Linked DNA regions of Homo sapiens: region 2 is linked to region 1. A link means that fine-mapping ties the variant in region 1 to the expression of a gene that starts in the linked region. Tissue or cell type: whole blood. Region 1 holds a variant in brackets; the other region holds the start of a gene. All regions are shown on one strand. Distances are from middle to middle. Region 1 overlaps HDAC7 (histone deacetylase 7). Region 2 holds the start of SLC48A1 (solute carrier family 48 member 1).

Evidence for each region. PIP is the estimated chance that this variant, and not a neighbour inherited with it, causes the effect. A credible set is the group of variants that fine-mapping cannot tell apart.
Region 2: it holds the start of SLC48A1, and the variant in region 1 is the best candidate, but not a certain one, in a credible set for the expression of SLC48A1 in whole blood (TOPMed, PIP 0.65).

Annotation. Positions count from the first base shown.
Region 1 is chr12:47,801,183-47,806,549 of GRCh38, reverse strand. It overlaps HDAC7 (histone deacetylase 7), which reads left to right. Exons shown (of 26, transcript NM_015401.5): 2 at 4,276-4,326. LOC124902926 (a long non-coding RNA gene) reads right to left here. Exons shown (of 2, transcript XR_007063290.1): 1 at 3,891-5,367; 2 at 917-1,275. Among named protein-coding and RNA genes, the nearest start is that of HDAC7, 16 kb to the left of the region's middle. The variant C/T (reference allele first, on the strand shown) is at 3,126.
Region 2 is chr12:47,770,225-47,775,591 of GRCh38, reverse strand. It overlaps SLC48A1 (solute carrier family 48 member 1), which reads right to left and starts at 2,354. Exons shown (of 3, transcript NM_017842.3): 1 at 2,152-2,354. The coding sequence starts at 2,287. RefSeq lists enhancers at 1,122-1,626, 1,627-2,133 and a silencer at 1,879-2,488.

The sequences.
Region 1 (5,367 bases):
GCCTGACTAATTTTTGTATTTTTGTTAGAGATGGGATTTCACCATGTCGGCCAAGCTGGTCTCGAACTCCTGACCTCAAGTAATCTGCCCGCCTTGGCCAGGGCAGAACTTCCCCAAAGTTCTGGGATTATAGGCGTGAGCCACCTCGCCCAGCCTGAAGTAGGTATTCTTATCTCCTGATTACAGGTGGGGCAGCTTAAGCAGGTTAAATTGTGTTTCTGGCTTGCTTTGCCAGTCACCGAGGGAGTCGGGGCTTAAACCCAGGCCCATCTGACCGCAAAGCCAATGTCCTGTGTGCTTTAGACCTTCAATTCCCTCACAGTTTGTGGCCTGCCAGACTTCATGTGGCAGGGGCTTCCAGCCCACTCTCAGCTCCCTGCTGGGTTCTGGATAAATCTGAGCAAGAAGCATTCAGTGCCAATCAATGAGCAGTATAGAGAATTTCTGGAAGGGAGACACAAGAAGCTGTTAGAAAGGGCGGCTTCCAGGGAAGTTCTAGGGAGTCTGGGATGAATGAGAAACTTATCCTAACAACTTTTGGGCTCTCTGAATTTTTTTTAGTATCTGCAAGTATTGTACTTGTTCAAATATGTTTAAGGCTGCAGGCTGTATTCTAAACTCCTTGAAAGTGAGAACCAGGTTTCACTCATATTTCCATCTTTTCAACCCCTAGATCAGTGACTTCCCAGGGAAGTAGTACCTGCATTTGGGGTTGACCTTTGGGTTTCCCCTGTACTGGTCTGGCCTGGCCTGGCTGGACCACTGGCTGGCTGGGTGGCTGTGACCTAGCCCCTTCTTTCTCTTTGCTCCTCTGTCAAATGAGAGTGTTGGTCTGAACGATCTCTAAAGCCTGGAAGAGGAGCAGATCCTCTGTGCTCAGCCCCCACTCTGTGTCAGGGAGGCCTGGCAACCACAGTGTTCTTTCTCCTGTTTATTTGTTCTTGGATCTTCCTGAAGCCATTTCACCACCAGCCTTCATCTTCTCTGCCAGCCCCATGGAGACTCAAGCTTTTTCCAGCCTATGTCAGGGAAGGAGAACCAGAGACAGCAACCTCGGGTGTGAAGGGAGTCAGCTCTGAACCCAGGACTATGGCCTTCTGCCACTGCCTGCTTTCCTCTTGCTGCTGGGGCCTAGGTCTTCTTGCTGCTGCTTCCTTTTCCGCTAATCAAGAGTCCAGGGAGGTGGGAACAGCCTCAACAAAGACTTTGAAGATGAGCGGGGAGGATCGCTTGAGCCCAGGAGCCCAGCCTGGGCAACAGGGGAAGACTTCGTCTCTACAAAAAAAAAAACAACAAAACAAAACAAAAAAAATTTAGCCAGGCATCGTGGTGCATACTGTAGTCCCAGCTACTCTGGAGGCTGAGGCAGGAGAATTGCCTGAGCCCAGGAGGTCAACGCTGCAGTGAGCCATGTTCACATCACTGCACTCCAGCCTGGGCATCAGAACAAGACCGTACCTCAAAAAAAAAAAAAAATTAAGAAAAGACACTGGAGGCATCGGGAGGGGGGCGTTCTAGGTGGCAGTGCTCCTGGGGAAGCCTTTTGTCCCACTGAAGACATGAAGCTCCTGGGAGAGCAGGTGGTCGGCAAGGCTCAGGTTTTCATCCACCTTTTGCAGATCTAGGAGGCAAAGTCATACCTGCTGGGGAGGGAGGACCAAGACTGGGGCCTGAGGCAATAAGGTAGGAGCAGTAGGGAGGTCAGTTTGTTCCAGGTGCTTAGAATTGTGTTTGTGTTTACTCTGGAGGTTGCTGAGGGCTGGGGTGCACCTATTGGAACAGGGGCTCCATAGGTTTCTGGGTAAAATCAGGTGTTCTGGTTTAAGAAGGTGACTTGGTAGGCCCACATGCCCCAGTGCCAAGTAAACTGTTCTTAAGTCTGACTGCAGTTGCCTCCAAAGAAGATAGAAAAGGGGAGTAGCCAGGATTCCAAAAAGAAGAGCTCTCCAACCTGGCAAAGAGCCCTGTGCTAGACAGTATTCCTGGTACCTTGGGTCCATTTACTTCTCTTTTTTTTTTTTTTTTCAGGCTGACCCCAAATTAGTAGTAACAGCCCTCGGAGAGAGGCAGTGATGGGAAAAGAGGTCCCACACTCAAGCCAGAACTGGGAGGCAGGATGTTCATGCTCTGGCTTCAGTTCAGCTACTGACGGGGTGCCAGTAGATACCTTTCCTCTCTCTAGGACACAAAGAGAGCTGTTCCTGGGTCTTAATCTCTGTCGCTCTGCGCTCTTCTGAACTTGATGGCCCTCAGCACGGGGCCAGGGAGCGGGGGAAAAGCAGAACTTTTTCCAGGAATTGCTATTGGAAGCAGCCCCGTTGCCAACACGCATGCACACATGCACACAGCTTTTCTGGACAGACCTTATATTATGGATTATCACCACAAAACATCCCTTTGGGGCCTGGTAGCCCACACCACAGAATTCAGGGTCATTAATTTTTCTCCTATCCAGAGAGTGCATGGTGTCCGGAATCTGTGGTTACCAGGGGAGCAAGGCACAGAGAACCTGGCTCTGCTCCCAAGCATGAATGCTGCTGACCAGCCCCTGGGTAGGGACTGGGGAGGTGGGACAGAATTCCCAGGAGGCAGGGGACTCAGCCTGACACAGTCTCTGGGAGTGCACCCTGGAGCCCAGTCCAGAAACCTCTGGGAGGACCAGGTCCTGCAGAAGAAAGAAGAGGTACTAAGAAGGCCTGGGATTGGGGGTTACCATGTCGTGGGGAGGGGAGTTTGCCTCTGAGGCCCACCACCTTGAGAAATATGCATGCTGTGTCTCAGGCAGGTTGTCAGGAGAGAGTCATTGTATTTGATTTGTCAGCTACTAACAGAGCCTGCCACGTGCCCTGCGAGGTGTTTGGTGCAGATGGGCATGGCTTCCACAGGGCACCACAGAGATCATGATGAATGAAGTGTCAAGGTGGTAGACACAGAGCGAGTGCTGTGGAAAAGGAAGAGGGGAGAGGTCAGGGAGAGCCTCCCAAGGAGATGGACTTGGGCTGGACCTCAGAGGATGGGCAGAATTTAAATAGGTAGAGCAGCATTTTCGGACCGAACTTTGTTACCCAAAGCATGGGCTGGTTTGAGGGGCAGTCGGTGGGAGTCTCCCTGTGCCCAGGCTGCCC[C/T]CTCCCCCAGCAGCGCCTGCCTGCAGGAAGTTCTCATTTCTCGGCTCTGAAGAGGAACTGTGGCTGCCTCTGAGACACAGACCCAAAGGAGCACCCCGGCAGTTTCTCAAAAAATATCCCTTCTGCCCCAAGTCTGGCCAGCAGAGCGCTTCTGTGTCCACCCAGTACCCCGTCCAGGCAGCCTCTGGGTCTCCTGGCCTCCTGTCCCCTTGACCCTGAACTGGACAGCAAGAGGGAAAGGTGTCTGTCCTGGACAGGTGGCCTCAGGACTCATCTCTGTCTTCTCCAACCCCAGCTGGCCTCCATGTCCCCTGGGGGCTTTCTGCTGCTGACCAGCTTGGGCCCTACTATAGGTTTTCTTGCTGGGCTTAGGAGCCTGAGAGAGGTAGCCATTTCCAAAAGAAAAGATTTCTATCTCAGATTATCTGGGAAAGAGGCTGAGTAGGTCCCTTCTCTGAGGAAACAGGCAGCAGGACATAGGATGGGGCAGTGGGAGGAAAAGGGTCTGCACTATGGGGTCCTTGGGCTGTGCACTCCTGACCTTATCACTTCACAGTTCCCACCAGATCTGACTTGACCTCCGGGCCATGACCCAGTCCCTCCCCCACTCTGGAAACCTCTGTGTCCCCTCCTGCTCCTTTCACTCCCACCTGGGAGGCTCTGAGCAGGCCAGGGTCCCTCTCTCCAGGCCTGCTCCTCCCTTTCTCCTCCTGTCCCCCCAGCCATCCCCCCAGCCAGGCTCTCCCACCTCTGGCCCCACCTCACCTCTTGGCCTTCTTCTTTCCCTCGGGCGATGGGAGCCTGGTTTGGCTGCCCAGGGAAGATTGTATCTGACCACAGGAGGGAGGGCTGAGGGCACTGCTGGGTGAGCTGAGGCCTCCTTAGGTTCTTGCTGTAGTCTGAGTTCAAGTCATTTAGAATGAGTGACTTGAGGAAGAGGGAGCTGGGAGCCCTTTTCACCAGCAGGGGGACTGGAGGAGTCGAATGGGGTGGGGTCTTCTCGTTTTGATTAGCTTCTGGTGGAGGTCCCAGGCTTTGGCGTGCTCAAGCTTGGAGTGGCAGGGAGCAGGCCTGGCTTGACCTTCTTTCCTTCCTGCTCCCTCTCCTCACCCCTCCCTGCAGCTCTTTCACTCCGTCTCTCTCTCTACAGATGGGACCCAGGTGAGCCCGGGTGCCCACTACTGCAGCCCCACTGGCGCAGGTAAGAGTCAAACCCGGGGGAGTCCATGGTAGGGAGTGGAAGATGAGGGGTGGAAAGGCTGTAAGAACGCGAGAAGCTGAGGGGTTAGAGAAGCAGGGTCGCTGGCTGATCTGCCAGAGAGCCAGGAGGTGGCGGCTCCAGGGAGGGGCGAGGAGCCGGGGTAAGAGAGGCAGCTCTGGATGCTGGCTGGGCACAGTGCTAGGAAACACAACAGGAAAAGGAAACACAGGATGCCCGTCTTGTCCTTGCTGGGAGCAGTGAAACAGGAAGGAAAGTAAGAAGCTAATATTTATACTGAGACCCCTACCCCATGTCAGGCACCAGGCAAGGTGTGTTCTTGTGTGTGGACTCGGTCCTCACACCGGCTCTGCAAGGTGGGCATGGCAGCCCTTGCAGGACTGCTCTGCTGGAGGGGAAGTGTTCTCTCACTGTCTGCGCCTCCTCCCTCTGCTGGCCCGAGCCTCCTCTGCTGCTAGGCTGCCCTGGGGAAGGACTGGACTTCCTGCTGCTGCTTTGGTTTAGGACATGCCCATGGGGCCAGGTCTGGACTAGACGCGGTCTGCCCTTCCTTTAGTGTAGCCAGTATCAACCAAGGGCCTACTGAGTGCAAGATATACAGCCTGATGCCTAATAATTCCATATAGCAGGGAGAAATGGAACCCAGGTATCCTCCTTGCTTCAGTCCTGGCTGTTGAAAAGCTAACAGGCAGGTTAGGGAGGAAGCACACACAAATACAAAGCGAAAAAAAATAGAATGCAATAATGTGACCAGTGCCCAATGAGAGGACACTGATTCATGAGTTTATCCATTTGTTCAAGAATCATTAATGAGTTCTGTCTCTGTGCCAGGGTACTTTCCTGGACATTTTAGGAGAGACACTGATTTATTCATTGATTCTATGTTTGTGGAGTGCCTGTCATGTGCTAGGTACTATTCCAGGTGCTAGGAATAATAAACAAAGCATGAAACCAACTCCCTGCCCTATGGAGCTTAACTCAGACATGGTACCTGCCCACAGAGCACTAATCCTGGTGTGGAAC
Region 2 (5,367 bases), 31 kb after region 1:
AAGAAGGTTGACTGGCCACAGACCCTCTGAGAACTCACTCATGGTGGGGAAGGTCGGAGGCCCAGGCTTGGCAACCCCTCTCCCTGCCACCATCCACCACCACCACTACCAAGCAGTTTTGGCTCTTCCACAGCCACTGTCAAAGATCAGACCATCAGGGAGATACCAGGACCCTACTCCAGCTGGCTGCTGCCCTAGCGAGCTGCTGCCCTAGCGAGCTGCTGCCCTAGCGCCTCTCTCTGAAGGCAGCTCCACAGCTGGCCTGCCTCATAGGCCAAGGGAAGCCTGTGGGGAGGGAGAGAGGGCAGAGTTGGGTCGGAAGAAAACCCCAGGCAACTCCCTAGAGTATAAGAAAGAAGGCCTTTTCCACAGCCCTCTAGGAGGCAGCTGGAGACTCAGGGAGTGGGCAGCACTGCAAGATTTCAGATCTGGAGGGAAGTCAGATGTCTTTTGGGGACATCTCCTCCCACTCCTAATAGATGAGGAAACTGTGGCCCAGGATAGGGTCAAACGGCCAGGTAGGGTTCACCTCCACTTGTACCAGGCCAGACTCAACACAACCAGCTGAGATCCCAGGCTGGCCCTCCCTGCTCATCCTTCTCTTGCCTTCGGTCTTCGCAATGCAATCATAGGGCTCTGACGCCGCCTTCCAGAGGGGAAAGCAACAGGGCCAATAGGAAACAAAAAAGTGGCAGGGAGAAGTGAACCTTGACAAACATGGAGGGTGGCGGGGTGCAGTGGGGAAAGGAACTAGGGCTCTGTAGATAACGCGCAGAGATGGGCCAGTTGTCCTCAGGATCCCACAGGTGGTGAGGCAGCTGGGCAGGCAGAGAACACCCTAGCCAGGGTGCCCATCCCCCCTTCTTGGTGACCCAGTGCTTTGTTGGCATTGTGTAGGGTGGGGCCCTGTATGCCCCTCTTCTAAGGCATTAACCCCACCTCATGCTGCGACTCTACCCAGGGATGGCACTCAGCACTCCCTGTGGCAGTGAGTAAATTAGTTATTTTTAGTTATTCCATTTAGGGTTCTTTTGGCCGAGGATTTTAGTAATGGAATATAATCATCATATGTAAAAGTATTATACGTATTTTCTTCCCAAAGTCCTTTCCCACACATATTATTTCATGTAGCTGTGTAATCCCGGGTAAGCAATTTATTTAACTTCAGGCCTCAGTTTCCTTATCTGTAAAATGGACATAATCGTAAGGCCTACTTCATGAGACTAATGTAAGGATTAAATGAAATAAGGGAAGCAGGTTGCTTAACATAGTGCCTGACACATAGAAAGCATTTTTTAAAATGTTAGAAAGTAGAGATAATATTTTTCATCTTCATACCAATTCTATGGCGCAGAGAGGTTAAACTGCGAGCCCAAATGTGCACAACAAGGAGCACTGGTCAGCCCAGAGCCCCCATCAGCGCACCGATGCTTCCCCTTCCCTCCCAGAAGCACAGAAAGGGCGGCTGGCCTGCAGGATTTGGCAGAGCTTGGCTGAGGAGCCACAGCAGACGGGTAGCAAAAAGGCACCAACATGGGTGGAAAGAGAATGTCCAGTTTCTATGAGATCCCTAACGCCGTCCTCCCTGTGGGTCTCAGCAGAGGGCTCTGCGGGGGAGCCCTCTGGAAGGAGGGAGATGGGCTTCCCCAGCCACCCCTAGCCCTCTTCCTTTCCCACTTCTTCCCTCTCTGCCCTCACCCAGCACCCAGGGAAGGGGCGCCTGGGGGGCAGGGGATCCCTCAGAACAACCGTGTGTGTGTGCGTGTGTGTGTGTGTGTGTGTTTGGGGATAGGAGGCGACCAGCGCCGCGGGCGCGCGGAGGGGACACTGTCGTGGGGCAACTGGGCGGAGGGCGACAGGCAGTGTGCCGTGACAGATAACCCGGGCGGCGCGGCAGGTCTGTGCAGCCGGCAGTGGCGGGCCGTCGGCACCCCCAGGTGGCGCCCGGGCGGGCATCGGGTCTCAGAGGCACCCAGGAATGCCCAGGAGCCCGGGCCCGCGTGGGGCCTGCCGCCGCCAACCGCTGTTTTCGAGTAAACACTCCACCCGCTCCGCGGGGAAGCGCCGCTCGCGGGGAGCGTCCTGGAGCAGCTGACGGCGCCCGCCCCGCAGCCGCGCACCCGCCCCGCGCCGCCCAGCGTCCCGGGGTACCTGCGAGCCCTCCCATGGCCGCGGTCCCCGGCTGTCGGTAGACCACCGTCCAGACGAGGAAGATGGAGAAGCCGGCCACGGAGCTGATGCCGGAGTAGGCGGCGCGGAGGCCGAGCTGCAGCCTGGACGGGGCCATGGGGCTGCGGCGCCGGGCGGGCCGAGGGCGAGCGCGGCCGAGAGTCACAGGTGCAGGGCCCGAAGCCGCCAGCCGGAGCCGCGGGAGCCGCCAGAGCAGCCGGCGCCCCGCGCTCCGCCCCCGGCCCGCCCCCAGCGCCGCCCGCACAGCGCCCTCCCCGGCCGGAGGCCGCCCGCGCCCGGAACCGCAGACGCCACCGCCGCTTTGCGAAGCTGCCGTGTCGTTTGGGGGAATGCTGCTAAAAAGGCGGATTCCTGGGCCCATCCCCAGACCCGCCGTGTCCGGATTGTTGGACCTTGGAAGGGACCGGAAATATGCCTTTATACGAGCGAACCGCGAGGATTAAAAATCTTTACCTCTGAGTACGATGCGTATTTTCGTTTAAAATTAAAATTAAAATTTCTTGTTAAAAATTAATAGGTAAAACTTAAGAAATATTAGAGTACGCTGTGAATAGAATTCCTTCCGCCCGTCCTTCTATCAACCAGGTTCCCTCCCACCATATCGCAGAGGATTTCTCCACACACTAAAGTCTGGGAACCCCTGCGACCATCACCTTCTGACTGCAAACATTCTATACATTCTATCCTCACGCACAGCTCCCCACAAATCCCTACTTTTTTTTTTTTAAACAGAGTCTCACTCTGTTGCCCGGGCAGGAGTACAGTGGCGCCATCATAGCTCCGCATCCTCCAACACCTGGATTCAAGCAATGCTCTCACCTCAGCCTTCCAAGCAGCCAGGACTACAGGTGTGTGCCACCACGCCTGGCTAGTATTTTTTGTTATTTATTTTTTGTAGAGATAGGGTCTCGCTATATTGCCCAGGCTGGTCCCCAACTCCTGGCCTCAAGCTGTCTTCCCACCTCGGCCTCCCAAAGCGCTGGAATTACAGGCTTGAGCCACTGCAACGGACCTCACCTTTCCTTTTATCAGCACAAGCCTTATCCTCCCAAACCCCTCACCCTGACCCTCGGGATCATACCATTGTAAGGAAGAGACAGATCTGTAGCAGGAGGGCACTGAGCTCCCACGTGAGCCCAGCTTCCGGCCGGGAGCTGGAGGGAAAATCCCAGCACAATAACAAGGGCTCTGCCACAGCACTAAGGATCCACATGGGGAGGCCCATCATATACCTGCACAAAACATAACCAATACCCCTTGCATTAGTTTTTTTTGTGTGTGTGCTGCCGTAACAAATTACCACAAATTTACTGATTTAAAATAACACAAACTTATTATTATTTTACAGTTCTGTAGGTCAGGAATCCAAATAATGGTCTCACTGGGCTAAAATCAAGGGGACATCAGGGTTGCCTTGTTTCTGGAGGCTCTAGGGGAAAATCAGTTTCCTTGACTTTTTTTTTTTTTTTGAGACGGAGTCTTGCTCTGTCACCCAGGCTAGAGTGCAGTGGCGTGATCTCAGCTCACTGCAATCTCTGCCTCCTGGGTTCAGGTGATTCTCCTGCATCAGCCTCCCGAGAAGTTGGGATTACACGCTTCCACCACCACACCCAGCTAATTTTTGTATTTTTAGTAAAGATGGGGTTTCACCATGTTGGCCAGGCTGGTCTCGAACTCCTGACCTCAGGTGATCCGCCCACCTCAGCCTCCCAAAGTGCTGGGATTACAGGTGTGAGCCCACCGTGCCCGGCCGCCTTTTCCAGCTTCTAGAGTGAGGCTACCCACATGCCTTAACTCCCTCTTCCTCCTTTTCCCTTCTAAGGACCCCTGTGATTGAGGGGATAGTCCAGGATAATCTCCCCATCGCAAGATCCTTAATTTTATCACATCAGCAAAATAAATCCCTTTGCCGTGGAAGGTGACATATTCATAGGTTCTGGGATGAGGACGTGGACATCTTTGGGGGCCATTATTATCCCACCCACCACACCCCCTCTGGAACATAAACTTCATGAGCAGGGACAGTGCCAGTTTTGTTCACATCAACATCTAAAAGCATGTCTGGCATATAATGACCCCTTAATAAATGTTTGTTGAATAGGTGAGTGTGAGTGAATGAAGGTAAGAATAAAATAAAAACAAAAGCAATTATACACAAGGAATCTAGACAGGGTGTGCTTAACTGCCAAACAAGGGATGTAAACCAGTGTTAAGCACATTTGCCTCACTCTAGAATAATCTGGGAGCTTCTTTAAAAATAAAAAAATAAACCCAGCCCCACCCCTGCCTATTAAATTTTGAATCTTGGAGTGTGTATTTTAATGAGAAGTGATGTCAAGGCTGTGAGCTCAGCAGCAGCCCTCCTTTAGGAGCTGCCGGTGGAGAGTGAGTGCTGGTCCTGTGGAGGAGGGAGCAAGCCCCGTGGTCCGGAGTGCATTTCCATGGATGGCTTCAGAGCTGGCCAGGATGGACAGTACTCCAGGCAGTGGGAACCGCACGTGTGATGGCGCAGAGGGAAGAAATAAAGCGGCCGCTTTGGGAAACTGTAAGTCGTTTGTGGCTGGAATGTCAAGTTTGAAGGTAGAGTAGCGGGTTTGGAGATTAGAAAGGTTCTGAACATAAAGGGCCTTGCATGCTCTGTTAAGAAGGCTGTCCCCCTCCCCTTGGGGCTGGGGGAGAAAACTCACAATTCTGTGTTTTAGAACTATGGCCAGAGTAATAGAGTGAAGGCGAACTGCCTGTGAAACACTAGAAGCAGAGAGATGAGTTGGACAAATTTCACCCCACAGTGCTTTAATTACCAGGTCTTTAAAATGGAGACTGCAGTAACACCTACTTCAAAGTGTTGTGATGAGGAGTGCCTGGAAGAGTGCCTAGCACATGGTAGATACTCAATAAATGTCAGGAAGTAGAATTAGTAGCAGCAGAAGGCTGCCATGGCAAGAGAGGATGAGGGGCTTCAGAGCTGGTCCAGGCAGAAGCAGAGAGAATGGAAGAGACGAAACTGCTTCAAGAGCTATTTCAGCTATCTGAACCTAAAGGTCAGGGGAGAATTCATTAGCTGAGCAGACAGAAGGAGGAGAGCAAAAATATTATGAGTGGACATATTAGGAGTATGGGAGAGCAGTGAGCAAGCTTGCTGTGCTGGAAAGTGAGATTGCGCAAGAAAAGAAAGAG